Linked DNA regions of Homo sapiens. The protein of the gene in region 2 interacts with the protein of the main gene of each other region in a pairwise test. Each region holds a gene or a part of one and is shown on either strand. Other genes may lie near its edges.

The links.
Region 1: the proteins of SLC66A2 (region 2) and KCNK5 interact in binary tests that used the Homo sapiens proteins (3 or more experiments, as listed by UniProt).
Region 3: the proteins of SLC66A2 (region 2) and TMEM44 interact in binary tests that used the Homo sapiens proteins (3 or more experiments, as listed by UniProt).
Region 4: the proteins of SLC66A2 (region 2) and STX12 interact in binary tests that used the Homo sapiens proteins (3 or more experiments, as listed by UniProt).

What each region holds. Positions count from the first base shown.
Region 1 is NC_000006.12:39,226,473-39,234,265, forward strand, and holds the start of KCNK5 (potassium channel subfamily K member 5), read right to left. Parts: upstream 3,004-7,793; 5' UTR 2,640-3,003; coding exon 2,454-2,639; intron 1-2,453. UniProt on the Homo sapiens protein: K(+) channel that conducts voltage-dependent outward rectifying currents upon membrane depolarization. Voltage sensing is coupled to K(+) electrochemical gradient in an 'ion flux gating' mode where outward but not inward ion flow opens the gate.
Region 2 is NC_000018.10:79,913,636-79,920,657, forward strand, and holds part of SLC66A2 (solute carrier family 66 member 2), read right to left. Parts: intron 5,766-7,022; coding exon 5,549-5,765; intron 2,845-5,548; coding exon of another isoform or gene 2,796-2,844; exon of another isoform or gene 2,553-2,795; intron 2,060-2,552; exon of another isoform or gene 1,755-2,059; intron 1-1,754.
Region 3 is NC_000003.12:194,588,404-194,595,425, reverse strand, and holds part of TMEM44 (transmembrane protein 44), read left to right. Parts: intron 1-2,355; coding exon of another isoform or gene 2,356-2,385; intron 2,386-4,593; exon of another isoform or gene 4,594-5,571; intron 5,572-5,799; exon of another isoform or gene 5,800-5,952; intron 5,953-6,283; exon of another isoform or gene 6,284-6,405; intron 6,406-6,786; coding exon 6,787-6,897; 3' UTR 6,898-7,022.
Region 4 is NC_000001.11:27,811,209-27,818,230, reverse strand, and holds part of STX12 (syntaxin-12), read right to left. Parts: intron 6,069-7,022; coding exon 5,963-6,068; intron 381-5,962; coding exon 308-380; intron 1-307. UniProt on the Homo sapiens protein: SNARE promoting fusion of transport vesicles with target membranes. Together with SNARE STX6, promotes movement of vesicles from endosomes to the cell membrane, and may therefore function in the endocytic recycling pathway.

The DNA.
Region 1 (7,793 bases), on a different chromosome or scaffold from region 2:
TAAGAGAAACCCCAACTCAGACTGCACCCCATCTCTTCCAACAATCTTTGTCCCACCCCTGGTTGTACCCCAGGAATTCCTAGCTAGGGGCTCCTTCATGATTCCAAGGTGATTCAGAACCAGCTAAAACACAGAGCGTCAGGTGGAAAATGCCCAAGCAGCCAGATGGGAAAGAAGATTTTTGAGTTTTCATTTTTCCTTAAACCAATATCCTGAGGCCTGAGGCAGTACCCCAAGTCACAAGAAAGCAGAGCAAGGCAGATTTCTGCAGATTAAAACTGATGTCAGCAAATGCTTCTACTTGTCCATTTTCATTTCTTGGGGTTTTTCCTATGACGGGAAGGGACTCGCCCAGTTGGGGTTGGTTTGGGAGTTTCTTTGGCCGGGGATGAGGACAGGGCTGTCCTTGTTCAAGAACTTATCTATAATAGCCTCCAAAGCAGACTGGCTTGATGCCCAAGTCCTTTTTCTAAAAATTACCTGCCCATTACTTTTTTTTGGTAGGGGGGTAAATGTTGACAGATTTAACAGGACTGCTAAATAAGAGGCATTTTGTTTGTTCAAATACCTTAAGAAGCCGTCTAGCCTCCAAAGCTATGACCACCAGCTGCACCCGGCTGCCTAACCCCTGGACCCCGCCCCCCCCGCCGTATGCCCCGCCAGCCTTTCCCTTTGCCTTGTGTTTTGAAGTTTATTTTCCCACATTTAGCCTTGAATTCTTTCCTTCCTTCCCCTGCAGTGTTGGAGCAACAGCTTAGAGGGAAACACTTCGAGGGCAGCTCAAGGCTTTATCATCCTTGCCTGCCCTCTTCCCCCTCTAAACAAAGCCCTGGAACAAACTAAACAAAAACTTGTTCTCTAGAGGAATTGTTTCCTCAAGGGAAATCATAAAGCAACCCCCTCCCCACAACACACCCCCCAGGGTAGACGCCCATCAGAAGGAAGCCATGTAGACTCTTCATGCCAGGACTCTTGCTGTTAGGAGGTAAACCAACCAACCATCTACTGAAGCTTATCCTCCCCACCATCACCTCCCATCTGCCTCTACCCGGGAAACTGCTACAGGGCAAGAGACTCTCCACTAAAATCCAACACTAAGCCTGCTAGACTAAACCTCCCCTTCTACAGGACCCCTTGGAGGACAAGTCTCCCCACACACGGCTGCCAGCAAATACGTATATGCTTATCTGTGTGATGTCCATCAATCTGGGGACAAGATTTTGATGTTTTCCAAATGCTTCCAACCTAACAGTCCGTGGCAGAAATAAGGAATGAGGATGGGCTCATTCCCGTTTCTCACATGGGGAAACGGAGGCTGGAAAATGAGCGACGACTAGATAGGCATAAAGTATTGAGGTGCTGCTGTAGACTAAACGTTGCTTCTCATCAGACCTCCTTTCTGGCATCTTTCACCCTGAGAGCAAGGTAACACCCTGGACAATCTACCCCTACTCCCTACCTGCTGCAATCTAGAACTTTCACCCAGGTCCTGGTCATTCCACTGGGGGAGCAGGCCAAGAAGAGTTGATGGTTGAAGCTGAGCCCTCGAGAAACTGGGGTAGAGGGCCTCGGTCCCCAAATGGGCCCCAAGGTCTCAGCCAGGATAGGCAGCCCGTTTATCCAAAGTGAGGTCAATGCCACCCATCGGGCTGTGCACCAGAAAATAAGCGGTTCCCAATGTCAGCACGGAGGGAAGTCCCCCACCCACCCCAATTCCGCACACACTCTCCTCCCCCATCATAAAGGGACTACGCGGGTATTATTCGTTTGTGCAACCTGCTACTTTCACAAAGTTTTACTCCAAGCCCTTGAAGGATGTCTCCGCGAGATAAGCCTTCCCGGAAGCCTGAGCGCGTCCCCAGCATTCCAGGCACCAGCCCTCATCCCGTGGGTTCGGGCCCCACAGAGCCTCCAGCTCCTCTCCGGAACTCTGCTGGGGGCGGAAGATTTTGCCCAGGCTCGGGCTGAGGGACCCTCCCGCCACTCTGCCGGGTTCACGTTCCTTAAGAAAAGCCTGGCAGGCGTGGCACTGGCCCTGGAGCGGGGAGGTGGAGACACGAGGGGATGGCACCAGGCTTGGCTCCCAGACTCCGGGAGCGTCTCCAGGGAAAGATAAACGCCTTTATCCGTCCCACAGCCTCTTCCCAAGGAGGGAGGTACCGTCACACCCACACTGAAACACCGTGGAGCCTAGTTCACCCGGGAATCAACTCCAATTTGTCTCCGGCCAAACTAAGTTCCAAAGAGTCTCCGCGCCTGGGGGACCCCTGTGTCCCTCGGGTGAGCGACAGATCCTCGAAGCCTGACCCATGATGAGACACGCTCTCTCATCACCCCCTGGACCTTCCACAGGGACTGAGGGTCACCCAAAGCTGTGAAGGGGTCTTCCTTTCAGCGCCCCCTAAAGCTCAAGCCAGCTTCAGATGTATATGGGGGTACAGGCGGCGACTGACCTCTAGGATCTTGTCCAGGCCCTCCTGACCCAGGCACGGGAACTCCTTGAGCAGATGCAGCTTCTGTGTGTAGTAGTTTTTCTTGGCCTCCTTCCAGTGTGGCTCCTCCAGCACTTCGAAGATCGCCGCCCCGATGGCCAGGTAGAAGATGATGGCCGAGGTGAGCAGAGGGCCCCGGTCCACCATGGCTCCCGAGCGGCCGCCTCCTAGAGAAAGCCTCTCCTAGCCCCAGCTGCTACCAGTCCGCCCGCCCTCCAGCCTCTGAAAACAGCTGTTTGAATTTGGAGCTCCGCATGCGCAGTGCCCGGTACTCACCCCCCGCAAGCACCGCTCCCCGGACAGAGTTGCTTGGCCAAGTTGGCCCACGGAGTGCGGGGAGCTGCGTGGGGCCCCACTCACGCGGCCCGGGGTGGGCGAACACCAGCGGGGCTGAAAGGGCGCCCTGGACCGCGGATGCGTAAGGAGCGGGAAGAACACAGGACTTGACTCTGGGCAGACACGTGGGCCGCTTCTCCACGCGTCGCTCCTCCGCGCGCCACTAGCAGTATGCGCCGCGCCCGCCTCCGCACGCCTCTTTAACCAGCGCCCGGCGCGCTCTGCCCCCTTGCTCCGGGCTCCGACCGGGGAGGAGCCCAGGCGGGCCCCGCCCCTTCCCCGCACAAGCAGCCCGGCGAGCGCAGGAGTGAGCGCGAGGTGAGCGCTAGAAGAGGCTTGGCGCTCCCCGCGCTCCCAGGGTCAGCCGCCAGGGGAGGCTGCGCCGCCCGCCCAGACCTGCACGCCCTGCGGTGCCCGAGGGGTTGCGGTCTCAGGGACTCGTGTTTGTTATTAGGACTGGCGTGTTAACTAAAATGATTGTGACTGAGGTCAGGAGTTTATTGCTTTTGTTATTTTTATTGTAATTCCATTTTCATTTACTGATGTTTCTTCCAAAAAAGTCTAATGCTCAGTCTCTCCGTGTCTCTCTTCCACACACTTTCTTGTAAGCCTGAGGAAGGGGGTTAGAACGGGGCTGAAGAAGCTGTAGGGAATCAGAGGACATCAGGAACTAATCCAGCCACCCACGCGTGATTCCTCCCCCTCACCCCGTTCTCACCTACCCGGGTGAGAACCCTGCATCTGGAAGGAGTGGGCAGCTCAATTCGTGGCACCCCTGTGCGCCCCCCCAATACACAGTATCTCTACGGGAAACACTTGGCCTCTTTTCTTTTTTTCTTTTCTCTTTTCTTTTCTCTTCTCCTTTCCTCTCCTTTCCTCTTTTCTTTCAGACGGAGTCTCACTCTGTCGCCAGGCTGGAGTGCAGTGGCACTATCTCGGCTCACTGCAACCCCCGCCTCCCGAGTTCAAGCAGTTCTTCTGCCTCAGCCTCTCAAGAAGCTGGGACTACAGGCGCACGCCATCACGCCCAGCTAATTTTTGTATTTTTAGTAGAGACGGGGTTTCACCGTGTTGGCCAGGCTGGTCTCAATTCCTGACCTCAGGTGATCCGCCCGCCTCAGCCTCCCAAAGTGCTGGGATTACAGGCGTGAGCCACCGCGCCCGGCCCACTTTCATACATATGCTCCAGCTGATTTAAAATTCCACCCCCGCCACCTTATCTCCCTCGTTGGCTTTATGTCCTTCCTAGTACTAAATTCCCTCTGCTATATTATATAACTTTATTTATTGTTTACTCTGTATTGTGCCCTCTCCCCGCCACACACACACAGACACACACACACACACACACACACACACACACACACGGAAATGTCTGCTGGGGAGATGGAGAATCTGTCTTGTGTAATGATGTATCCACAGTGCTTGTTACATACATAGCAGACACTCAATAACCATGTGTGCAATGAAGGAGTGAATGAATTTGTTAAAAACAGGTGCCCAGGATGTTTCTAACTCGCCTTGCTGCCATTCTCTGAGCTCTTGTAAACCCCAGGAAGTACTGAATCCCTTCCATGCATCATAAGCAGGCCCTGTCATTCGACCCACTTTGCAGTGAGGAAAAAAGCTCAGTGGGTTAGTTTGTTCAGTCTTTCAACCAGCACCAGTCAGAAGTTGGAGGGGGAACCTCCTTTCAGTGCTCTGTACCAGGGGCTGGCCCTGCCCTTCTCTGGCCTCTGTAGGGGCAGGTACTGGAGTGGCCAGAGTCCCTGAGCACTGTCCCCTGGCCAAGGCCTTTTCTTTCCATCGAGAAGAAGGGGAGTCATTTCTCACCTCCTACCCACCCTGTACCCAGGCTGTGGCCTGAACCCCAAGGTGTCAAGAGACACTTTACTTGGGGAGGGGGGTATCTGTACTATCTCCAAATCTGGCTGGAATGGAGGGGTTAGGGATACAGTTGGAAGCATTGATCTGATTTTGCTGATGTTTCTGTCTCTCCTTATGGCAACATGAGCGTGTCCAGAGAAGAAGACCAGAGCAGGAAGCTGGGGAGCCCCAGATTTCCTGATACTGCATCCCTGAGGTGTGCAGTGCCAGTCCCCTCAGGACCCCCCTGGCCAAGGATCATCCTGGACAAGGCCCTGGGGGTGCTTCTCTGTAGACAACCCACTCCCAGCACCAGGCCTCTCACCCAACCCAACATATCCATCTTCTCTAAGCCTTGCTGACCTCCTGCCTACCCTGTCCCCCAGGCTGTGGCCTGAACCCTAGCTCTGCAGTCTCATTCTCCAGCCCTCCAGCTGGGATGGAAACCAAGCATGGGTTCCGGATCCCCCCTCTCTGGATGGAGTTCACCCTGTTTGTGAAGAGTTCAGGGCTGCAGTGTGAACGCTTCAGTGAGCATGGGGTGGGGGCAGTTTGAGAGGCCACAGGCCCTCTCTTTGTTTGGAAAATTCCCTACCATTCCTCTCCCACCTCCGGTCTGTGTTCTCTTCCTAAGAAAATAAAGGGCCTCTTCCTATTTCGGTCTCACAGCCTCATGAAAATGCTGAACACTTTGAGATGAATTGATTTTTATTCGAGGCCTCTGTATGTTGTAGTTTCTTTGTCCTTCCACTCTGTTTCTGCATTTCCTGTCCCCTTCTTCCTTCTTGCTCTCCATGTGGTGCTGACTGACTCCTCATCCTCTCCTTCTGTCGCCGCATCCTTTGCTTTCCTGTATTTTTCCAAAGCTCCTTCCCCAGCTCTTCATTCTCCCTCCTCCTGCCTCTCTCCTTTGTCTCCATCCCAGTTGAATGTGCTTCCCCTCCCCCAACTTCCCCTCCCCTCCCCATCTCCCCACTCCCCTCTCCAACTCCCCTGCCCCAGCCAGATAGTTGGATCAACTTGACCTTCTGTAGATCAGGGGCACACACCTGCTCTCTGCACAGCAGCCAGTGGGGGCTTTTATAAAATGTAAACTGTGCTGAAACTATCGAATATTTAGACAACACGAGCCTTAAGATTGGAAAAGGGAAAAGTGGGTAAATGGGAATGAGGTGATGTGAGATATATATTTTCCTACAGGGCTGATAAATAAATCCATTCCAATAGCATACGTGTAGTTCTTAGTATTATGATTATTGATCAGGGTTGATAATAATTTCAGAGTGCAACCTTTTGGAAGGCAATCAGCTCTGAGGAATGTAAACCAACAATAAAATTCTAGGCCCCTCCCAAGCAAGCAAATGGACCCTTCCTCTTGACCAAGGGCATTCTCAAGTAAACACAAAACACTAGTTCAGGCCATGATGGAATGGGTGGTTGGACATGGCTCCTTTTTTTTTTTTTGAGAGGGCGTCGCACTCTGTCACCCAGGCTGGAGTGCAGTGGCACAATCTCAACCCACTGCAACCTCTGCCTCCTGGGTTCAAGCAATTCTCATGTCTCGGCCTCCCAAGTAGCTGGGACTACAGGCATGAGCCACCACGCCCGGCTAATTTTTTGTATATTTAATAGAGATGGGGTTTCACCATGCTGGCCAGGCTGGCCTCAAACTCCTGACATCAACTGATCTGCCCACCTTGGCCTCCCATAGCACTGGGATTACAGGTGTGATCCAAAGCGCCCAGCCGACATGCCTCCTTATAACTTCCTCCCTTTGGAATTCAGGCACAGCTGACCAGCATTAATATTAAAACAGAGACCTTAAGGCACAACCTGGCCAACATGGTGAAACCCTGTCTCTACTAAAACTACAAAAATTAGCTGGGCGTAGTGGCTTATGTCTGTAATCGCAGCTACTCAGCAGGCTGAGGCATTAGAATTGCTTGAACCCGGGAGGCAGAGGTTGCAGTGAGCCGAGATGGCACCATTGCACTCCAGCCTGGATGATAGAGACTCCATCTCAATAAAAAAAAAAAACAAAAACCCAAAAAACAGAGACCTTAAGACTGACAGTACAGACTCTTTGTAGCAATAAGAATCATGACAGCAGGCCCTGAGAGAAATCGAAGTATTTTACCCCAAAATATATTCATTTGGCCTATTTTGAAATGCTCCTGCAGGAGCGCTCCCTGCGCTCCCGGGGTCGTCTGGCACCTTTGTAAGTTGGATAACGAACATTTATAATCTATTCTCTCTGAAGCCTGCTACCTGAAGGCTTCACCTGCATAATAAGAACCTTGTCTTTACAACCCCTTATCTTAACCCAGACATTTCCTCCTACGGATTTCAGGTCTTTAGATAAACTCAACCAGCTACCAATCAGAAAATCTTCGAATTCACCTATAACCTAAAATGTATAAAAACAAGCTGTACTCTGATAACGCTGGACACATGTTCTCAAGATCTCCTGGGGCTGTGTCATGGGCCATGGTCACTCATATTTGGCTCAGAATAAATCTCTTCAAATACTCTACAGAGTTTGACTCTTCATCCACAGGATGGAGTTGAGCTTCACCTTGACAGCAACAAATAATGAAACTTCTGCAGGTCTCATCTCCAGAGATTGGCTGAGCCATCAGTTGTTTTGGCCAAGGTCATGCTTCCAGGATCTCTCCATAAAAGGTTCACACCCACCTTTGTTTCTTCCTTATTTCAATTAGGTAAAGGGATTATCCTCTTGGTAAAATGAACACTTGGTAATCCAACACAAATGCTGTTTTTATTTCTGTTTTGTAACATTTTTGTTTACATTGTTTTATATTCTGTTTAAGAATTTTAGGCCGGGCGCGGTGGCTCACGCCTGTAATCCCAGCACCTTGGGAGGCCGAGGCGGGCGGATCACGAGGTCAGGAGATCGAGACCATCCTGGCTAACATGGTGAAACCCCGTCTCTACTAAAAATACAAAAAATTAGCCGGGCGTGGTGGCGGGCGCCTGTAGTCCCAGCTACTCGGGAGGCTGAGGCAGGAGAATGGCAGGAACCCGGGAGGCGGAGCTTGCAGTGAGCCGAGATAGTGCCACTGCAGTCTGGCCTGGGCG
Region 2 (7,022 bases):
CCGGCCTGTGCACGTGTGTGCAAGTACACGAGACACAGGACTTTCCAGAAGCAGGGCTGCTACGAGATCAACTCGGGAATTCTTGAGTCACTTCCTATCAAACATCCTAGAGACCTTCGGTTTAATGTGGAGCTGAGGCTGTGGGTCCCAGGGAAGATTCCAGGCAGCATCTACGCCTCCCTCACCTAGGGCAGTGGCACTAGCAGGTCCCCAGAGAAAAGGAGCTGAAGTTCAGGCTGTCACGTTTCAGGCTCATGTCACCATTCGCCACCAAAGTCTTGTTTGTTTTTTTACATGGAGTCTCACTCTGTTGCCCAGGCTGGAGTGCAGTGGCGCGATCTTGGCTCACTGCAACCTCCGCCCCCCAGGTTCAAGTGATTCTCCTGCCTCAGCTTCCTGAGTAGCTGGGATTACAGACGCCTGCCACACCTAGCTAATTTTTGCATTTTTAGTAGAGACAGGGTTTCACCATCTTGGCCAGGCTGGTCTTGAACTCCTAACCTTGTGATCCACCTGCCCTGGCCTCCCAAAGTGCTGGGATTACAGGCGTGAGCCACCGCGCCCAGCCCAAAGTCTTGGTTTTTTGGGTATCTGTTAAGTACGTGTGTGTGCACATTTTAAATACGTCATCTTAAACACGACCCTGGAGATTATACAGGAAGCACACATGATCTATCAAACCTGCATTCAGAAACCACTACCCACAATGGCTTCAAGAATCACAACTCCTGACAGGGCTGGGGATACCACGACGCCCCCATCAGGCAGATCGGAGCACAAAGGAACCTGAGACGTCTCTGACCTGCCTCCAGATGGGGGGTGGTCTGACAGCAGGAAGTGGGGGGTCACTCCAGCCCACCCCAAGGCTGCCGTGGCCCCGGAGGAACAGGCAGGTACCACAGGAGCACCCAGGAAGTGGCAAAGGGGAGAGACACCCCCTTGCCCAAGCTGCGTCTGGAGAGCGAGTGGAACCCAGGCCGGGGAGGGCTGAAGATCCACGGAGCGGTGGCCTGGACCCATGCGGAGAAGCCAGAAGACCACACAGCAAGGGGGGCAGAGGTGGGGACCCTGTGCCCCACAGGCTGCAGTGCCAAGGGAGGAAGGTGGGCAGGGCCCACAGGCCCAAAGAGACGGAGCTTCAGACGCGCAAGTGGAGCCGGCTCCAGACTCAGCCCTGCCCAGAGGGAGCCTCAGGAACAGCCCCCAGGTCGCCGGCCCTAGCCCTGCAGGCCCTGCCTTGCCCAGGCTGCCAGGTGGCGTCTCAGGTTGTGGAAGGCAGCTGCTGGGCCTCCAGAATTCACACTCGGGTGATACTAAAACCCAGGGCCAAGGTGAAACGCGGCGTCAGAGCAGCAGAAATAAGGACGTGCGGCACAAAGGCTGGGCCTGGAGTGGTCCTGTTCCCTTTCCCGTTTAGTGAGAACCCTCCCAAAACCTTCCCTCAGGCCATGCAGAGGCAACGTCCCCACAAGCAGACCCCAGACTTTGCCTGGCTGGCAGGCATGGGGTCAGGCTGGCTGTGCGTTCTAGCAGCAAACGCCTTATGTGTTCCAGTGGGAAAACCGCCCGATGGTCACTCTTAAAAGCGCAGACCGGATGAACTGGGCCTGGGGAGGGCTGAAGCTCCCGGCAGCACGGGCGGGGCCAGCCCCACCCCCTCCGCATCCCCCCAGGGCCCGCCCTGTCCCCTCCCCATCCCCCCGGGGCCAGGCCAGGGCCTCAGTGCACAGACTCTCCGGGGCGCTCATTACCGTAACTACAACCACACACTCCATCACTCCGAGCCGACCCGACGCTGCTGCTCCTGGTCCCCGTTCCTGACGAGGATGCACAGGGTCTCAGCGGTCCCGCACTTGAAGCTGGCTGACCTCGCTGCCTACTTCCTCCGCAGAGACTGCTCCATCTCCCTCAGCCTCAGGACTCCATCCAAGCCCTCACAACGTGCCAGCTGTGTGGGTCGCCCGTCTTCTGCCCGGCCCTCCCGGCAGGGACAGAGGCCAAGCCTCCTGTGGCCCGATGGGGAGATGGGGTGCCTGTGACATCCCGTCCCCAGCCACACCTGAGGTTTATAAAAGCAGAAGTTAGCCCAGGTGATCTCACAGGGGCTTGGCACTCACCCAGGGAGCAGGGCAAACTCAGAGGTAGAACACCTGCACCTCCTGGGATCCCTGAGACACGTTCCAAGTTCCGCAGCCAAGGAGAAGTATGCAGGCAAAGGACCATGACCCCGGCTCCCATCTCGCCCACACAGCACCCCCAATACTATTTTACATGTGTGTAAGTGTATCCGCATCCCACACACACGGGTTTTCATCCACGGTTCCAGGGTGCTAACTCCCACAGTGCTTCTGTACCCGCGGTGCTCTCATAGCCGCAGTGCTCCCGTACCCTCCCATACCCACGGTGCTCCCGTACCCATGGCGCTCCCATACCCACAGCGCTCCCGTACCCACGGTGCTCTCATACCCGCAGTGCTCCCGTACCCTCCCATACCCACGGTGCTCCCGTACCCGCGGCGCTCTCGTACCCGCAGTGCTCCCGTACCCTCCCATACCCACGGTGCTCCCGTACCCGCGGCGCTCTTGTACCTGCGGCACTCCCGTACCCGTGGTGCTCTCATAGCCGCAGTGCTCCCGTACCCGTGGTGCTCCCGTACCCGTGGTGCTCCCGTACCCGTGGTGCTCCCGTACCCACAGTGCTTCTGTAGCTCTTGTCATGACGTTGGGGTGCTTTAGGCCTCAGAAAACAGAATCTCTCTGACCTTTTGCCCTCTGTTCACCTGCCCAGGCAGGACTCTAACCCTCATTCCAGAGAGGGTCCTGCCGACATCCTGGAGGAAGGAGCCTGCACAGAGGACAGAAGAATCTCAACAGACCCTGCTGGGTTCACGTCGCACCCTTAGGTCCAATCACATTTCAACACCATTGTCCATCACGCCTATCCAATGAGGTCTCCCAAGTAGACAGGCTTTGGGAGGCTCCGGGGAGAGCTGAATTTGCGGGAGCCGGCAGGAGAGTGAACAGGAGCTCATCTGTGTGCCGTGAGGGCGGCAGCCCCACTCCACGAGACCGAGCTCCTGCCTGGGGACCCCTCCACAGCTCCCTCTGTGTATCCCCTCACTCGGCGGTTTATGTCTGTCCTTTAAAATGCTCTTTGTAAAATATCAGCAACCGTGTTTCCCAGAGCTCTGTGAGCCGCTCCAGCAAGCTGACAGAGCCCAAGGAGGGGTCATGGAACCCTAACATGGCCCAGAAGTTCCAGAGGCCCAGATTTGCGATGGGTGTCTAAGTGTGGGTGGCATCTGGCGCTGTCTCTGGGTCAGGACAACCGGCGGTGCCCGCCGCAGGACCGACTGCCTGCTCGGTGCTGGGGAGACGCCTGCACATGGAAGTGTGTGTGCTGCTTGTGGTGAAGTGAGTGAGAACAGGAAAAGCACGTCCAATGTGTTTCTTCCACACACAGACCCCCCTTCCACAGGCGTTTCTGGAGCCTTCCCCGTGTGTGAGAAGAGCAGACCTCAGGGCCTAAGACAGGCCTGCCTGCAGGGCCGCCTCGGCCAGCATCTGGAAACTCGGGTTTGAAGAGGATTCCCACGTCCCCCCAGCTGACGGGGCAGCCCCTGGGCTGAGACCTTGAACAACATGCCTGCGCTGAACAGCAAAACCTGCTACCCTGGAATCGAGAGCAACAGCTCCTGCCAAGCCTGGGGCCCCTGTGAGGTCACACACGGCCAGCTCCTTGTGAGGGGCCAGGAGGCCGGCATGTGGGGTCCGGATCCGCTAGACCCTCACCACGAGGCTGTGGTGATGCTCTGGAGGGCACAGGCCTGGCACCCAGGCACCTCCCACAGATCTCCAGGTCGCAAGCTCGGCACGCGGGCACTGCCCACAGGATCTCCAGCTGTGGGGTGGCTGGGGACGCCACACTCCGCCGGACAAGGCCCACGTCCAGCCGGGGAGCCTACATACGACGCCCGCCCTGAGACCCACTTTCTCTCTGGGAGCATCCCTGCCTTTTGGGCTCCACACCGAAGCCCTCAGGGCTGCCACTGCCCAACCCAACAGTGAGGGAGCCTGTTCCAGCCATGGACACCCTCTCGGGCCTCCATGCACCCTCGCCCGAGAAACCCCAGCAACCCCCCTGGTCTTGATTCACTGTAATCACACCAACCAGGGCAGCCCAATCCCCACCTGCACCCCACACCACACCCCAACCTGTACCTACCTCACACCATGCCAGCACCCCACACCTGACCCATGCCCCACACCTCTACCTACAGCCCACACCGGAACTCCATACCCCACACCCCAGCCCACACCTACACTTCACATCTGTGCCTATGTCCCACACCCACACCTACGCCACACACCTGTAACTGCAACCCACACCTATAACCCTGGCCTGCACCTACATCTCACCCCCTACCACCACCCCACACCTACGACAAGCCCTCCTACCTTTACCTCTCACGGGCAACTGAACCTACACACAACCCCCGGCCCTCACACCTCTGCCCACACGCCAAACCTGCAAATACTCAGAGGTCTCTGAAAGCCCTCAAGAGAGTGCTGTGGCCCCTGGGCACCCGTTCTCCAACACAAAAACGCGTCAGCCCCTCTCTTCCAGGCTGTTTCCCACAAATAACAAATCCAAGAATAACATTCCCTCCAAATCACAGCCTCAGCATCTGTATTGGAGACCAGACTCAAGCAACGTGTGGGGGCTCAGGGTGTTCTCCGTGAGGAGCGGGCACCGGGGGGCGGATCCCCAGTGAGGAGCGGGCCCGGGGGGGGGTCCCCAGTGAGGAGCGGGCACCGGGGAGGGTCCCCAGTGAGGAGCGGCACCGGGGGGTCCCCAGTGAGGAGCGGGCCTGGGGGTCGAAAGTGTGAGGGACTAGAGTTTTCTGCCCCCGCCACAGCGAGCAGATCTGTTTTTATTACAATGCAGTTTCCATCCAGGACCTTGACTGAGCCCGTGGGCATCATGCTGCTCGCGTTGTGCCCTACCTCTGGCGGTCACGGGGACGTCCAGGCACGCACTGGTGCAGGGCGCCCAGGCATGGTCTGTGGTTCCGAACGTCAGCCTGCCCAGCCTTCTACCACATACCTCAGAGGCCGGAGGCCGTGCTGGGGCCAGTGGGGAAAGACCGAGGACAGTGTCCAAGGCAGCCCCCAGACCACCTTCCCTGCCCCACCAGACCCGCCCTGACCCTGGGCCAGGCTGGTTGCCCTGCACTCCTCCTGCCCCGTCTGGCCAGGCACTCGGACATCCCTCCCACTGGAAGGTTCCGTCTCAACGGCCCTGAAGGAGCAGCTCCCAACCCCGTGCTGGGTCTCGGCTGCCCCTCATGCGGCCCACACAAGCTCATCTGCTCCAGCGCGAGGTCGAGGGGCCAAGGCCTATAAACCTGCTATTCTTTAACCGGCAGCTTCACAGGTCAACGTGGGAAATACACAGCCAGACACACAGGCGTTTGATTTTTACCAAATCTGCAGCCATGTGGTGCCTCTGGAGCAGTGGTGCTTCCGTGGCGGCATCCCCGGCCTACCTCATGCCCTCCGTGGACTGGTGGCGGTGGTTGCGGTAAAGCTGGGGCACACCCAGCATGGCTTCGGTCAGCACAGCCAGGAAGCCCAGGGTCTCCACAAACAGGGCGGAGTCAATGGACAGGTAGGTGATGTAGCCCGCCACGCCCGTGAAGGCCAGGACGCACTGCACGTAGTCCGAGAAGCTGCTCCACTGCCAGAAGTGGTGGGGGTCGAAGTCTAGGGCGAGAGGGAGAAGCAGCCTCAGCACAGCTTAGGGTCCAGGTGAGGAGTCAAGGTCAGTGGGGAGAGACGGAACCGAGTGAGAGGTCAAGGTCAGTGGGGAGAGACAGGAACCGAGGGAGAGGTCAAGGTCAGTGGGGAGAGACAGGAACCGAGGGAGAGGTCAAGGTCAGTGAGGAGAGACGGGAACCGAGGGAGAGGTCAAGGTCAGTGGAGGAGAGACAGGAACCGAGGGAGAGGTCAAGGTCAGTGGGGAGAGACAGGAACCGAGGGAGAGGTCAAGGTCAGTGGGGAGAGACAGGAACCGAGGGAGAGGTCAAGGTCAGTGAGGAGAGACAGGAACCGAGGGAGAGGTCAAGGTCAGTGAGGAGAGACAGGAACCGAGTGAGAGGTCAAGGTCAGTGAGGAGAGACGGGAACCGAGGGAGAGGTCAGGGTCAGAGGAGGAGAGACAGGAACCGAGTGAGAGGTCAGGGTCAGTGAGGAGAGACAGGAACCGAGTGAGAGGTCAAGGTCAGTGGGGAGAGACAGGAACCGAGGGAGAGGTCAAGGTCAGTGAGGAGAGACAGGAACCGAGGGAGAGGTCAGGGTCAGTGGAGGAGAGACAGGAACCGAGGGAGAGGTCAAGGTCAGTGAGGAGAGACAGGAACCGAGTGAGAGGTCAAGGTCAGTGGAGGAGAGACAGGAACCGAGGGAGAGGTCAAGGTCAGTGGGGAGAGACGGAACCGAGGGAGAGGTCAGGGTCAGTGAGGAGAGACAGGAACCGAGGGAGAGGTCAAGGTCAGTGGAGGAGAGACAGGAACCGAGTGAGAGGTCAAGGTCAGTGAGGAGAGACGGAACCGAGGGAGAGGTCAGGGTCAGTGAGGAGAGACAGGAACCGAGGGAGAGGTCAAGGTCAGTGGGGAGAGACAGGAACCGAGGGAGAGGTCAAGGTCAGTGAGGAGAGACGGGAACCGAGGGAGAGGTCAAGGTCAGTGGAGGAGAGACAGGAACCGAGGGAGAGGTCAAGGTCAGTGGGGAGAGACAGGAACCGAGGGAGAGGTCAAGGTCAGTGGGGAGAGACAGGAACCGAGGGAGAGGTCAAGGTCAGTGAGGAGAGACAGGAACCGAGGGAGAGGTCAAGGTCAGTGAGGAGAGACAGGAACCGAGTGAGAGGTCAAGGTCAGTGAGGAGAGACGGGAACCGAGGGAGAGGTCAGGGTCAGAGGAGGAGAGACAGGAACCGAGGGAGAGGTCAAGGTCAGTGAGGAGAGACA
Region 3 (7,022 bases), on a different chromosome or scaffold from region 2:
ATTTCCTCAGTAACTTAGACACATCCTAAACTCTTCCAGAATTAAAGAAACATTACTACATGCTATATAGACAAAGGCTATAGGATGCTTCTAGATTTCAGAAGCAAGGAAAAATGTGCTTTTAGACATGAGGCAAATTAAAATGCCGTATGCAGTGGTTTGAGGAGGTGATAGAATCATGTTTCTGAAGATGATTTTAAGGGCAAGTGGAAATGCTCATTGTATGTTAAAGGAGAAAAGCCATTTGCTTTTATTATATTATACATAATACATACATGTTTCAGAGGCATATTTAATCTTTGTAGAGGCCTTCTTCTAAGGATAGAATTTTGGTAGATCTTTGTTTTTTGAAAAATGTTCTATAATGAACACATTTGCTCTTGAAACAGGGAAAAGACTATATAATTTTATTTATTTTTAGGCTGGGGGGTTGAGGAGAGACCTCAGTTACAAAGATTTGGGTTAATTGTACTCCTTAGGCACACTATCATTAGCGGTTTATAAAGTAACTTTAAAAATACTGACTATTCCCACTAGAGGGCGCTCTTCCTAAATTTTAGATTGCCCATAACGCTGAAGATTTAAGCTTTGTAAAGGAAGTTTCAAGGTTTCATTTCAGCACAGCTGGGAGACTCGAGCCTATTTATTTGCTTGTTTGTTTGCTTGGCTTTAAATAAACTTTTTCGCTAAGTTAACTTTTTCAACCCTCCTTTATATCATCGGCATTTCTGTCTTTTCCAGAGTGTGTGGAACCATCAGTTTAGTAATTTGTATCCCTTCCAATTAATCTTTTTTTTTTTTTCAGTTTATGTTCCCTCAGCAGGATAGTGTTAGATGAAGAATGCTAAGGAATTATCACTAATTTTGTTAGGTATAATAATGGCATTGTGCTTAGGTTTTTTTTTTAAGTCCTTATCTATGAGATACATTTTGAAATATTTGTGGATGAAATGATTTACGCCTGGCTGGGAGCAGTGGCTCATGCCTGTAATCCTAGCACTTTGGGAGGCTGAGGCAAGCTGATCACTTGAGGCCAGGAGTTCGAGACCAGCCTGGCCAACATGGTGAAACCCCATCTCTACTAAAAATACAAAATTAGCTGGGCATGGTCCTGGGCGCCTGTAATCCCAGCTACTCAGGAGACTGAGGCAGGAGAATTGCTTGAACCTGGGAGGCAGAGATTGCAGTGAGCCGAGATCGTACCATTACACTCCAGCCTGTGACAAGAGTGAAACTCCATCATACACAGATAGATAGATATAGATAGATAGATAGATAGATAGATAGATAGATAGATAGATAGATAGAAAATTAGGCCAGGTGCTGTGGCTCATGCCTGTAATCCCAGCATTTTGGGTGGCCAGGGTGGGAGGATTGCTTGAGCTCAGGAGTTCAAGACCAGCCTGGGCACCATAGACCTCATCTCCACTAAAAAAATAAAATAAATGTCAGCCAGGCATGGTGGTACACACCTGTAGTCCCAGCTACTCAGGAGTCTGAGGCAGGAAGATCAGTTGAGCCCAGGAGATGGAGGCAGCAGTGGGCTATGACCATGCCACTGCACTACAGCCTGGGCGACAGAGCAAGCCCCTCTCTCAAAAAAATTAATTAATTGATTTTTTTTAATGAAAAATGTTAAGGAGTTGAACATGCTTTTGTTTTAATGTGATAATAACCCTAAATCCTGTGGACTGCTCGGACTGCCTGCTATTTAATTTAATAGACATTCCCAGATCAATGTAACAGATATTCATAGATTCTTAGCTCATGTCAGAAACATATGTTTCCCAGGCGCTGCAGGAGGTGCTGGAGTAACAAGGGCAGACGTGATGCCTGCCCTGCAAGAACTTGAGTCAGACATATTTGAGGTTTGGAGTGGAACCAACCATGCAGTAAACACTGACTACAAATGAATCTTGGCTGGTAGCAAATACCCCATATTTGCAAGGCAGGAATTTTATTGGCATCTCAGTTTTATGGGTTTGAGTTGAATCATCTCAGCCATGTGGTTAATAAATGGGAGATTTATTATTATTACTGCTACTCCTCCTAATAATAATAATAATTTCTACTAATAGTAATTTTTAAATCTTGATAGATTGTAATTTTTCCCAGGACGTGCAGCCCTTCATAATTATCATAACTATCTCATTGATCATTTAACTAAATTGTAACTGCTAGTAGCTGCTGCCTTCCTGCTTGCTGAAGTCACCTGTTCCTTTGCCCCCAACCATCTAAGGGCCTGTCTCCTGGCTCACTGAGCAGACAGGAGCTGGTCCTGAGCTCTGCTCTGCTGTGGGATGGTGGCAAAATCTGTCCAACACTTTTTCTGTCTCTCTTTTTATTCTGCAGCAGAAGTATTGGGAGGCCCTAAACTCGGAGCAGGTATGGACGATCATGCTCTTTCTCTTCCAGGAGGGACTTCCTATGGCTTGATTTCAGTTCCTGTTTTTGTTAGACCTTGTTAGATGGCTAGACCCATGACAAATTCCTTCAGTAAAAAAAGAATGTCAGGCCAGGCGCGGTGGCTCACACCTGTAATCCTAGCACTTTGGGAGGCCGAGGTGGGCGATCACCTGAGGTCAGGAGTTCAAGACCAGCCTGGCCAACATGGTGAAACCCTGTCTCTACTAAAGATACAAAATTAGCCGGGCATGGTGTCACATGCCTGTAATCCCAGCTACTCAGGGGCTGAGGCAAGTGAATCGCTTGAACCTGGGAGATGAAGGTTGCAGTGAGCCGAGATTGCACCATTGCACTCCAGCCTGGGCAACAAGAGTGAAACTCCATCTCAAAAAAAAAAAAGTCAAAATGAGAGGCAAGACTGAGGATGAATGGGATTTTCAGGGCTCTCTCAGGTCAGAGTTCTTTCTGCTTTGGGGGTATTCAGGTAAGCCCAAGTAATAGGGACTCCAAGAAGACGTGTAACCCAGTGAAGAAACATGGTTTGGAACAACAGTAGTAGTGGCCGGCATGGCTGCAGTAGCTGTTGCAATAAACAGTTCCAGACATTGTCATTCTGGGACCCTGGGCAGCTGGCTGCTGTCTCCATGCCACCCTTGCCTCCAAGTGACAGGCATGTTTTGTGACAACTACCTGTGCCTGTCATCTCCCAGGATTGTTTCTGATATGAAAATGGATCTTTTGCTCAGATTCTCTTCATGCCTGGTTTCCAGCAATGATTTTTTTTTTTTTTTTTTTGAGACGGAGTCTCGCTCTGTCGCCCAGGCCGGACTGCGGACTGCAGTGGTGCGATCTCGGCTCACTGCAAGCTCCGCCTCCTGGGTTCATGCCATTCTCCTGCCTCAGCCTCCCGAGTAGCTGGGACTACAGGCGCCCGCCACCGCGCCCGGCTAATTTTTTGTATTTTTAGTAGAGACGGGGTTTCACCTTGTTAGCCAGGATGGTCTCGATCTCCTGACCTCATGATCCACCCGCCTCGGCCTCCCAAAGTGCTGGGATTACAGGCGTGAGCCACCACGCCTGGCCCAATGATTTTATTATAAAATGAAGTTTTTAGGCCGGGCACGTTGGCTCACACCTGTAATCCCAACACTTTGGAAGGCTGAGGGGGGCGGATCACCTGAGGTCAGGAGTTGGAGACCAGTCTGGCCAACGTGGCGAGATCCCCATCTCTACTAAAAATACAAAAATTAGCCAGGTGTGGTGGTGTGTACCTGTGGTCCCAGCTACTCAGGATACTAAGGCAGGAGAATCACTTGAACCCAGGAGGCAGAGGTTGCAGTGAGCCCAGATCATGCCTCCAGCCTGGGTGATGGAGTGAGACTCTGTCTCAAAATAAATAAATAAATAAATAATGAAGTTTTAAAACACATTATTCTGGAGAGTCAGAAAAAATAGATTCTAAATGTTTTCTAAGATTTGTACCACTTTATTTTTACTTACTTATTTATGTATTTATTTATTTTTTGAGACAGAATTTCACTCTTGTCGCCCACGCTGGAGTACAGTGGCGTGATCTCGGCTCACTGCAACCTCCGCCTCCGGGGTTCAAACGATTCTCCTGCTTCAGCCTCCCAAGTGGCTGGGATTATAGGCGCCTGTCACCATGCCTGGCTAATTTTTTGTATTTTTAATAGAGATGGGGTTTCACCATGTTGGCCAGGCTGGTCTCGAACTCCTGACCTCAGGTGATCCACCCGCCTCAGCCTCCCAGAGTGTTGGGATTACAGGCGTGAGCCACCACACCCAGCCTATTTATTTATTTCTTGAGATGGAGTTTCGCTCTTGTTGCCTAGGCTGGAGTACAATCACACAGTCTCAGCTCACTGCAACCTCTGCCTCCCAGGTTCAAGCGATTCTCTTGTGTCAGCCTCCCAAGTAGCTGGGATTACGGGCGCCCACCACTATACTTGGCTAATTTTTGTATTTTTGGTAGAGACGGGGTTTCACCATGTTGGCCAGGCTGGTCTTGAACTCCTGACCTTAGGTGATCTGCCCGCCTCAGTCTCCCAAAGTGCTGAGATTACAGGCGTGAGTCCCCGTGCCCGGCCTGTACTAGTTTAAAGAGCTCACCTGATCAAAGTGACAGGTTTCTGTCTGCAGGCTGCTGAACTGGTCACGGTTGGCAAGAATCATTCTTCAGCAGCCATTTAAGAAGCTCGAGCAGTGGTTCTCAATCATCAGGGCATCTAAGAATCACCCTAGGAGCTTGTAAAAATGCCAAACCTTAGGTCTCTACCCCCTACCCAGGGGCTAGGGTGGGCCCCAGCATCAGTGTTTTTAGCCAGCAGCCTGGGTGCTTCTGGTGTGGCTGGTCAAGCACACGCTGTGAGAACAATGATCTAGGTCTCAGGCCTCAGCTTAGAAACCGTTTTCATCAAAGAGCACACTGACCATCCTCAGAGAACAGAACAGGGCCCTACTTTTTTCACTGGGCAGGTGGGTCACGTAGGCTGAGGGGCCTGGTGAGCTCTTTTATTTGGGGTCTGATAAGGTCAGAAAGGAATTTGGTTCAAGGGGTCCAGCCAGGTCTGCGACCGCAAGTTAATGCGATGTTCTCACTGGAAGTGGCTGGCACAGCCCCAAACAGGTGCAGGGGACGAGCTGCCCAAACCCAGTCACTGCAGGGTCACTGGGAATCAGGTGGTCTTTTTAACATGATGGCTTTTAAAATCGCCAAGTATTAGTACTCGATTCAGTTATTATCAGTAAATCACTAACAAACTGGGCTCTTTATTTCTGTCCAAAACAAGGCCACAATTTGTGTTTTATCACTGGGATGGCATGGCCATTGTGTCAATGGCTCAGGGAGACTTCAAGATCTTCGCTGGAACCTCTAAGGATTGGAATGTTCGATTCAGCTTCAGTGTGAGCAGCTGTCAGGGCATCTTTCTTGGAGAGCATGTCCATGCCTGGGTCTATTATCTTGTCCAAATAGATCGTCTGCCCAGGCAGACACAGCCTTTGTCATCTTTGCTTCTTGTTTCCTGGGTTTCCTAGTACTGTCAAATGTGACCTTGTGCCTCAGAATCATCATAGACGCTTGGAAATGGGAGAGATCTTCTTATCTCGTTGCTGATCCAATACCACAGCATACACATGGGGAAACTGAGGCCCCAAAAACGAAGGCAAATTAGTGACAGGAGGAGAACTGGAGCCCAATCCCTACTTGCCTCCATGGCTGGAACCTCAAAGGTAACACCAAGGATCCCCTTGGGCTCTAATCCATCATCTTAGAACAGCAGGAGGGCTTCACAGACAGCTTTGTCAATGCTTCTGTGCCCACTTGTATTAACCCGTCACTCACCCCTGCAAATTTCAACTTCCCAAACCCACCTGAGTCGGTGATGAACTATTCACTGGCAGTGCCCCCCCGCTCTGAATTGGGTTTTAAGTGATGACAAGTCGGCTGAGCCTCAGGTTTAGAGGAAACACCGTGTAGGAGCAGGAGCGAACGTTTGCTCTGTTCCCGTGGAGCCCATCATCTACCTGAGACAACAAGGCAGATGTCCGCATAAACGCCAGGGCTGTCCGTGCTCAGGGGCAAATCAGTGGAATAGGTAATACAAAGAGAAAGGCAGGTGAGAGCTCAATGGGCTAACACGGTCAAGGTAGGCTTCCTGGGGGAAGAGGTATTTACCTGGCCCATAAAGAATAGGTTGAAGCTGGGCATGGTGGCTCAAGCCTGTAAGCTGAGCACTTTGGGAGGCTGAGGCGGGAGGACTGCTTAGGTCCAGGAGTTCGAGATCAGCCTGGGCAACATTGCAAGACTTTATCTCTACTAAAAATTAAAAACTTAGCCAGGCATTGTGGTACACACCTGTAGTCCCAGCTACTCGGGAGGCTGAAGCAGGAGGATTGCTTGAGTCTAGGAGTTTGAGGCAGCAGTGAGCTATGATTGCACCACTGTACTCTAGCCTGGGTGACACCGCAAGACCCTGTCTTAAAAAAATAAAAAAGGATTAAGTTTGCCTGGTTTTTTCCAGGAATGAGTTAGGCATGGAGTCAGGATAAGGAGAACATGACTCAGTGTCACTAGATAAGGACTTGGTAGAGGCAGAGAAGAGTGGAGAATGAGGGCGGGAAGGAAAGTGAAGCTGTTATGTTTAGGGTGGTTGTTCATTAGTTGCTTGATGTAAAGTTATGCTTGCCTCCTTAGGTCCCAGAAACACAGGCCTGGGTAACTTGTCCTTACCCTTTTGTCCTTGTCTGTGCCTGGATCATGAGAACCAAGATTGGAGCTTTTGTTTGGGTCAGGGGTTATGACAGATGAGAAGCATCTATCCGTTCCACCCAGCTACCCTTTGCATCTTTTCTCCATAGTGGGACCCTGAAGATGTGAACCTCGAAGGCAGCAAAGAAAATGTGGAGCTACTGGGATCCCAGGTGCACCAGGACTCTGTGAGGACAGCACACCTGAGTGATGATGATTAACACCTTCTGGAGCCAGCTCATCAGCTCAGAGCCCAGGGTCAGGAGTTCGTTCAGTAACGCAGCGGGAATCAATCTGCACTGACACCGCGGCAGGAACTGAAGCTGCCCTGGCAAGTGAGGAACCA
Region 4 (7,022 bases), on a different chromosome or scaffold from region 2:
TTTTTGTATTTTTAGTAGAGACGGGTTTCACCGTGTGAGCCAGGATGGTCTCCATCTCCTGACCTCATGATCTGCCCGCTTGGGCTTCCCAAAGTGCTGGGATTACAGGCCTGAGCCACCACGCCTAGCCTAACTCCTTTTTCTTTCTTTCTTTCTTTTTTAAGAGACAAATTCTCATTATGTTGCCCAGGTTGGCTTCAAACTCCTAGATGGTGCTTCAGCCTCAGCCTTCTGAGTAGCTGGGATTACAGATGCATGCCAAATACTATCAACTCACCTTGAGGTTAAAGGTATCAATAATACATACCAATCAGATCACCCTGGTCATGGATCATCATGGCCAAATCTTTAAATATCTGATTGACATCCAAAATGTCAGCCTAAGGAAGACAAAAAACAATTAACTAACATTAAGCAACATGTTAGAAGATTTGTTTCCCTCACGTACCTAAAGTTTTAGCTATTAACACGTGTGTTTTTAAGGCTCTACAAAGCATGCTTTCTCCATAAACAGAAAATAATCTATTGCTGCCTACCCAATATTGTAAAACAGAAGGCACATAAACTCACTCTTCAAGCAACATTAATGGGACATGCTACATGAGAACCAGTAAGAGCGCCCAAGTCCAAACAGTACAGCAGAAGGCTGGAGTGCTGATATAGACAAATTCTTGGTGTGATAGCCCTATGTGGAGACTGCTAGGCCTTGTGACAAAAGCCTGTTGAGTGCCTCCCGATGACAACCACTGGGACTTTGGACTACAGAATTTAAATGTTTATACAAGATCATGCTATCTGAGGAATGCAAGGAGGAGCTACAAGTAAGGAGCCTCTTTTCCCCTGGGATTGACTCTGGAACTGTGTGAGGAGTTGCTGGATTCTGTCATCACTGGACAATGCCCTATGGTAACTCCCAACTGACTGACAAAAAGCTGATGGTCTGTGGATAGCAGTTCCAAAGTGAATGGACTACAACCTATTTACTGCTCTGATCAAAGAAGGTAAACACAAATCAGCTCAGTGGGCTGAACTGCAGCTTGTTTTCCTAACAGCAGTGGAAGAATTTAACATTGGCAAAATCCCCTATATTTGGGTCTTTCTCCCTCCCTCCCTCCTTCTCTCCCTCCCTTTCTTTTTTCTTCCTTTTCTTTCCTTCCTTCTTTCCTTCCTTCCTTCCTCCCTCCCTCTCTTTCCTTCCTTCTCTCTCTCTCCCTTCCCTTTCCTTTCCTTCCTCCCTCCCCTTCCTTCCTTTTTTCCCTCCCTCCCTTCCTTCTTTCTCCTCTCTCTTTCCTTCCTTTCTCTTTCTTTTTTTTTTGAGACAGAGTCTTGCTCTGTCACCCAGGCTGGAGTGCAGTGGCACAATCTCGTCTCACTGCAACCTCCACCTCCCGGATTCAAGCAATTCACCTGCCTCAGCCTCCTGAGTAGCTGGGATTACAGGCCCATGCCACCACGCCCGGATAATTTTTTATTTTTAGTAGAGACGGGGTTTCACCATGTTGGCCAGGCTGGTCTTGAACTCCTGACATCGTGATCCACTGCCTTGGCCTCCCAAAGTGCTGGGATTACAGGCATGAGTCACTGTGCCTGGCCTCCCTCCCTCCCTCCCTTCTCTCTCTATCCCTCCCTCCCTCCCTTCCTTCCTGATCCGCCTGCCTCGGCCTCCCAAAATGCTGGGATTACAGGCATGATCCACCGCGCCCAGCCTCCGTCCCTTCTTTCTTTTTATTTATTTTTATTTATTACTTGTTTTTTTTGAGACAGAGTCTTGCTCTGTCATCCAGGCTGGAGTGCAGTGGCACAATCTCAACTCCCTGCAACCTCCATCCCCTGGGTTTGAGTGATTCTCCTGCCTCATCCTCCCCAGTAGATGGGATTACAGTCGTGCACCACCACGCCCGGCTATTTTTTTTTTCTGAGGTAGAGTTTCACTCTTGTTGCTAGGCTGGAGTGCAATGGTGCAATCTCGGCTCACTGCAACTTCCGCCTCCTGGGTTCAAGCAATTCTCCTGCCTCAGCCTCCCAGGTACCTGGGATTACAGGATGTACCACCATGCCTGGCTAATTCTTTATATTTAGTAGAGATGGGGTTTCACCATGTTGGTCAGGCTGGTCTCGAACTCCTGACCTCAGGTGATCCACCCACTTTGGCCTCCCAAAGTGCTGGGATTACAGGCGTGAGCTTGTACTGTGCCCGGCCCTAATTTTTGTATTTTTAGTAGAGACAGAGTTTCACCACATTGGCCAGGCTGGTCTCGAATTCCTGACCTCAACTGATCCGCCTGCCTCGGCCTCCCAAAGTGCTGGGATTACAGGTGTGAACCACCACGTCTGGCCTATATTTGAGTTTTTCTGACTCATGATCAGGCAGAAGAAAGACAATGGAAACCTGTCTTATTAAAGGGGTGCTCATATGGGGCATGACCCTATGGAAATTTGAGGGCAATTCCCTTCCAGGTTTGAAGGGTTATTGGAATCATAACCTGGCAAGCATTTCAATCACTTGCTAAGAGTCTACTATAGTGGACTATCTGCTAAAGCAAGTCTTGTCAGCATTTCAATCACTTGCTAAGAGTCTACCATAGTTGGGGTAGTCTGCTAGTTGCTGTGAATACAGCTAACTGGGGTGGACGTGGGGAATAAGTGCACAATAAAATAAATAAGAAGGAAGAGTACTATATAGGAAATGGCTGAATTAATGGTATAGAAAGGTGTGGAGAAAAGGAAGACTCTGCAGAAGAGGTAAGACATGAGTTGTGCCTTAAAGCAAAGGAGAGGTCATATGAACAGAAAGGCAACTCAGTTAAAGAGCAAATAACCTAGCTTTGCCATAACATAGAATGTGTATGTCAGAGTTTGGAAATTACTAGATACGAAAATTGAACCTAGGCTAAGGAATTTGGACTTTCCTCTGTTGAATATGAAATGATCCATTATACCCTGGCATCCATTACATTTCTTTCCTTAGCTCCATATGTCTCACTCCACTTTGCTATAACGGTACATTCGTCCCTTGGTATCCGTGGGGGATTGGTTCCAGGACTCCCTCCCTCTAAGTCACTGATATAAAATGGCATAGTATTTGCATATAACTTGTGCCCATTCTCTCCTATATTCTAAATCATCTCTATATTACTTATATAATGTTACATTACTATTTTATACTACATTACTATTTTACATAGCACTTACATTGTATTAGTAATGTACTGAACTAATACAATGTGTTATATAAAATACTGTTACACTGTATTGGTTTTTACATTTGTATTATTTTTTATTGTTGTATTATTTTTTAGTTTTTTTTAAATATTTTCACTCCACGGTTGCTTGAGTCTGAGGATGTGAAACCTAAATATATCGAGGGCCAACTGTATTTTTTTTTTTTTTTTTGAGACAGAGTCTCGCTCTGTTGCCAGGCTGGAGTGCAATTGCTCACTGCAACCTCCGCCTCCCAGGTTCAAGCACTTCTCCTGCCTCAGCCTCCCCAGTAGCTGGAATTACAGGCATGCACCACCACACCCGGCTAATTTTTTGTGTTTTTAGTAGACACGGGGTTTTACCATGTTGGTCAGGCTGGTCTTGAACTCCAGACCTCAGGTGAGCCACTCGCCTCAGCCTCCCAAAGTGCTGGGATTACAGGCATGAGCCACCGCGCCCGGCTAGTAATTTTTCTTTGAAGGAAGGATTATTATTATTATTTGAGACAGAGTCTTGCTCTGTTGCCCAGGCTGGATTGCAGTGGCACGATCATGGCTCACTGCAGCCTTGATCTCCTGGGCTCAAGTGATCTTCTGCCTCAGGCTCCTGAGTAGCTGGGACCACAGGTACATGTTACAGCACCCGGTTAATTTTTTATTTTTTGTAGAGGTAAGGTCTTGCTACACTGCCCAGGCTGTCTTGAATTCCTGGGCTCAAGCAATCATCCTGCCTCAGCCTCCAACTTGCCGGGATTACAGGCATGAGCCATTGCACTTAGCCATATTTCTAATGTTAGACAATTAATTCAATTAGTAGTAGCAGTAGGTGAAAAAGAGTAAAGATATGACATTTTTGAAGGCAATAAAATAATCATAACTTAAGGATAAACTATCCCATCTAAAAACAGACAAGACCAGCCTGGCCAAAATGGCAAAACCTCGTCTCTACTAAAAATACAAAAATTAGCCAGGAGTGGTGGCGGGCACCTATAATCTTTGCTACTCAGGAGGCTGAGGCAGGAGAATCGCTTGAACCCAGGAAGTGGAGGTTGCAGTGAGCCAAGAACGCGCCACTGCACTCCTGCCTGGGTGACAGAGTAAGACTCTGACTCAAAAAATAAATAATAAATAGATAAAAACAGACATTGATGGCCTTTAGGGCAGTGGGTCTCAACCCTGGCTGCATATTATAATCACCTGGGGGAACTTTTTAAAAAAATACCCATGCCCAGGGCCTCACGCCCAGAAATTATGATTTATTAGTTTGAACCATATAAAATAATGGATATTTGCCCATTTTTAACATATAATAAACAGGAATTTCACATTATCCCATCAGGTAATTAGTGGTGGATGAGAGCTGGGGCATTAAAAAAAAATCTTCTCCAGGTGATCCTCATGTGCACTCACAGTTCAGAACCACTGCTACAGATGGAGGCCAAGGAAGAGCTCAAAATTTCCCTCTCTCCTTTTCTCCTCCCCTGATCCCAGCAATGGCAGCCTTCTACCTTCGGAGAAAACTAAACTGGAGAAAACTCAGGTTTAAGGATATTTTAGCTGGGCACAGTGGTTCATGCCAGTAATCCCAGCACTTTGGGAGGCTGAAGCAGGCAGATCACTTGAGGTCAGAAGTTCAAGACCAGCCTGGCCAAAATGGCAAAACCCTGTCTCTACTAAAAATACAAAAATTAGCCGAGTGTGGTGGTGCGTACTGGTAGTCTCGGCTATTCAGGAGGCTGAGGCAGGAGAATCACTTGAACCCAGGAGAGGGAGGCTGCAGTAAGCTGAGATAGTGTCATTGCACTCCTGCCTGGGCGACAGAGCAAGACTTAGTCTCGGAAAAAAAAAAAAAAGGATATTTTATTAGTCACTGTGCAAAATTAAAGTTGAAAGCTCAGTTAGGTAAGAAAGGCCTACAGACTTCTCCCTCAACCTCCACCTCAAAAACTGTTCCTATTTCTCTGACTCACTGAAGGGATAAGATGTACAACTTGGGATTAGACTTTAGGATATACAAAAATGGAGCAAGACTTTTGGCCTGCCTTTATTCTGGGCTCTTCAGACTAAGCAAAGGGGCTCTCCATGGAGTCCTGCCTAACCCGGAGGTTGGCATTGAGATTTGAGGTCAAAGTTCTAATGAGCAATAAAATATCTGTCTGCCTTGTTCTGTTCTCCATGTACATTTCTCCAGGAGAAATAAGATGTGGTGATCCGTATAAGATGTGGTGATTGAGGAAAGGATTTGAGTACTCCTGGGCACCAAGGCCAATGCCATTATAACAGTAGTTCATGCCAGGAGCGGTGACTCACGCCTGTAATCCCAGCACTTTGGGAGGCCGATGAGGGTGGATCACCTGAGGTCGTGAGTTCAAGACCAGCCTGACCAACATGGAGAAACCCCGTCTCTACTAAAAATACAAAATTAGCTGGGCGTGGTGGCACATGCCTGTAATCCCAGCTACTCGAGAGTCTGAGGCAGGAGAATCGCTCGAACCCAGGAGGCAGAGGTTGCAGTGAGCCAAGATCACACCACTGCACTCCAGCCTGGGCAACAAGAGCGAAATTCCATCCAAGATAAAAAAAAAAACAAAAAAAACCGGTAGTTCAAACCCACCATGATTACACTGAGACAGAAAAAATACAAATCACACAATGACACATTTTATGCCTTTTCATAATCACTAAGAGAATTAAAGTGAACTAAGGAGTTCAGATACCTGCAGACACACTGAGTCAAACAAAAAACATGACGTGGCTCTCACCTCCAGCTGCCGAATTGCCGTTTCTCTTTCTTTAATAAGTTCCAAATCCTGCTCAGTGATGGCCACCTCATCCTCCTGGCTCTGCATCTGGTTCCACTCCTCATGGCTGCAGGGAAACAGGCACACTAGGTGATTTCTCCTCTCAAAGGCATAACAAGACATATCTCCAACATCTCTACTGCCAGCAGAACCTATGCAAAGACATTACCAGGGCTCCAGTCCTCTGCTATCAATAAAGTCTTGGAGGGCCACATTCTTCATATCCAGAAGCAAAGAGCTGATGATATCAGGAAAACAAAGACTCAGCTTCCATGGGCAAAGCTGACATGTGGCAGAATTATGACGGATGGGACTCCTGGCTGTTTCCATTTAGGGGTATACTCTGTAATCTCACTGGGGCTTGCCAGACAAGGAAAGTAGCCAGAGATTTGAACTCATTGAATTATGTTGCACCATCATCTTCCAGGGCACTCTCAAAGTGCAAGCTGCATTAGTACCTTCAGTACTAAGTGGGTGGAGAAGAGCAAGCTAAGTGACCTATCAGTGCTTTGCCAGTTAGTTCAACAGAATCACATCTCCTAGTTTTCCAAAATTTCCTTGGGGTTATGCTTTGGGTTAAATACCTCTTAACAGGCCAGGCGCGGTGGCTCATGCCTGTAATCCTAGCACTTTGGGAGGCCGAGGCAGGAGGACTGCTTGAGGCCAGGAGTTCAAGACCAACCTGGCTAACATAGCAAAACCCTCATCTCTATTAAAAAACAATCCATAAAAAACCCTCTTAACAGAAAGCTAGTGAAATGTTATAACACTTTTTAAAAAATTCTTTTTAGAAATGGGGGTCTTGCTTTGTTGCCCAGGCTGGTCTCAAACTCCTGGCTTTAAGCTATCCTCCTGCCTCAACCTGCCAAAGTGCTGTGATTACAGGCTTGAGCCACCATGCCTGGCTTTTTTTTTTTTTTTTGAGACGGAGTTTCGCTCTTTCATCCAGGCCGGAGTGAAGTGGCGCTTACTTCACTCCGCCCCCCGGGTTCAAGAGATTCTCCTGCCTCAGCCTCGAGAG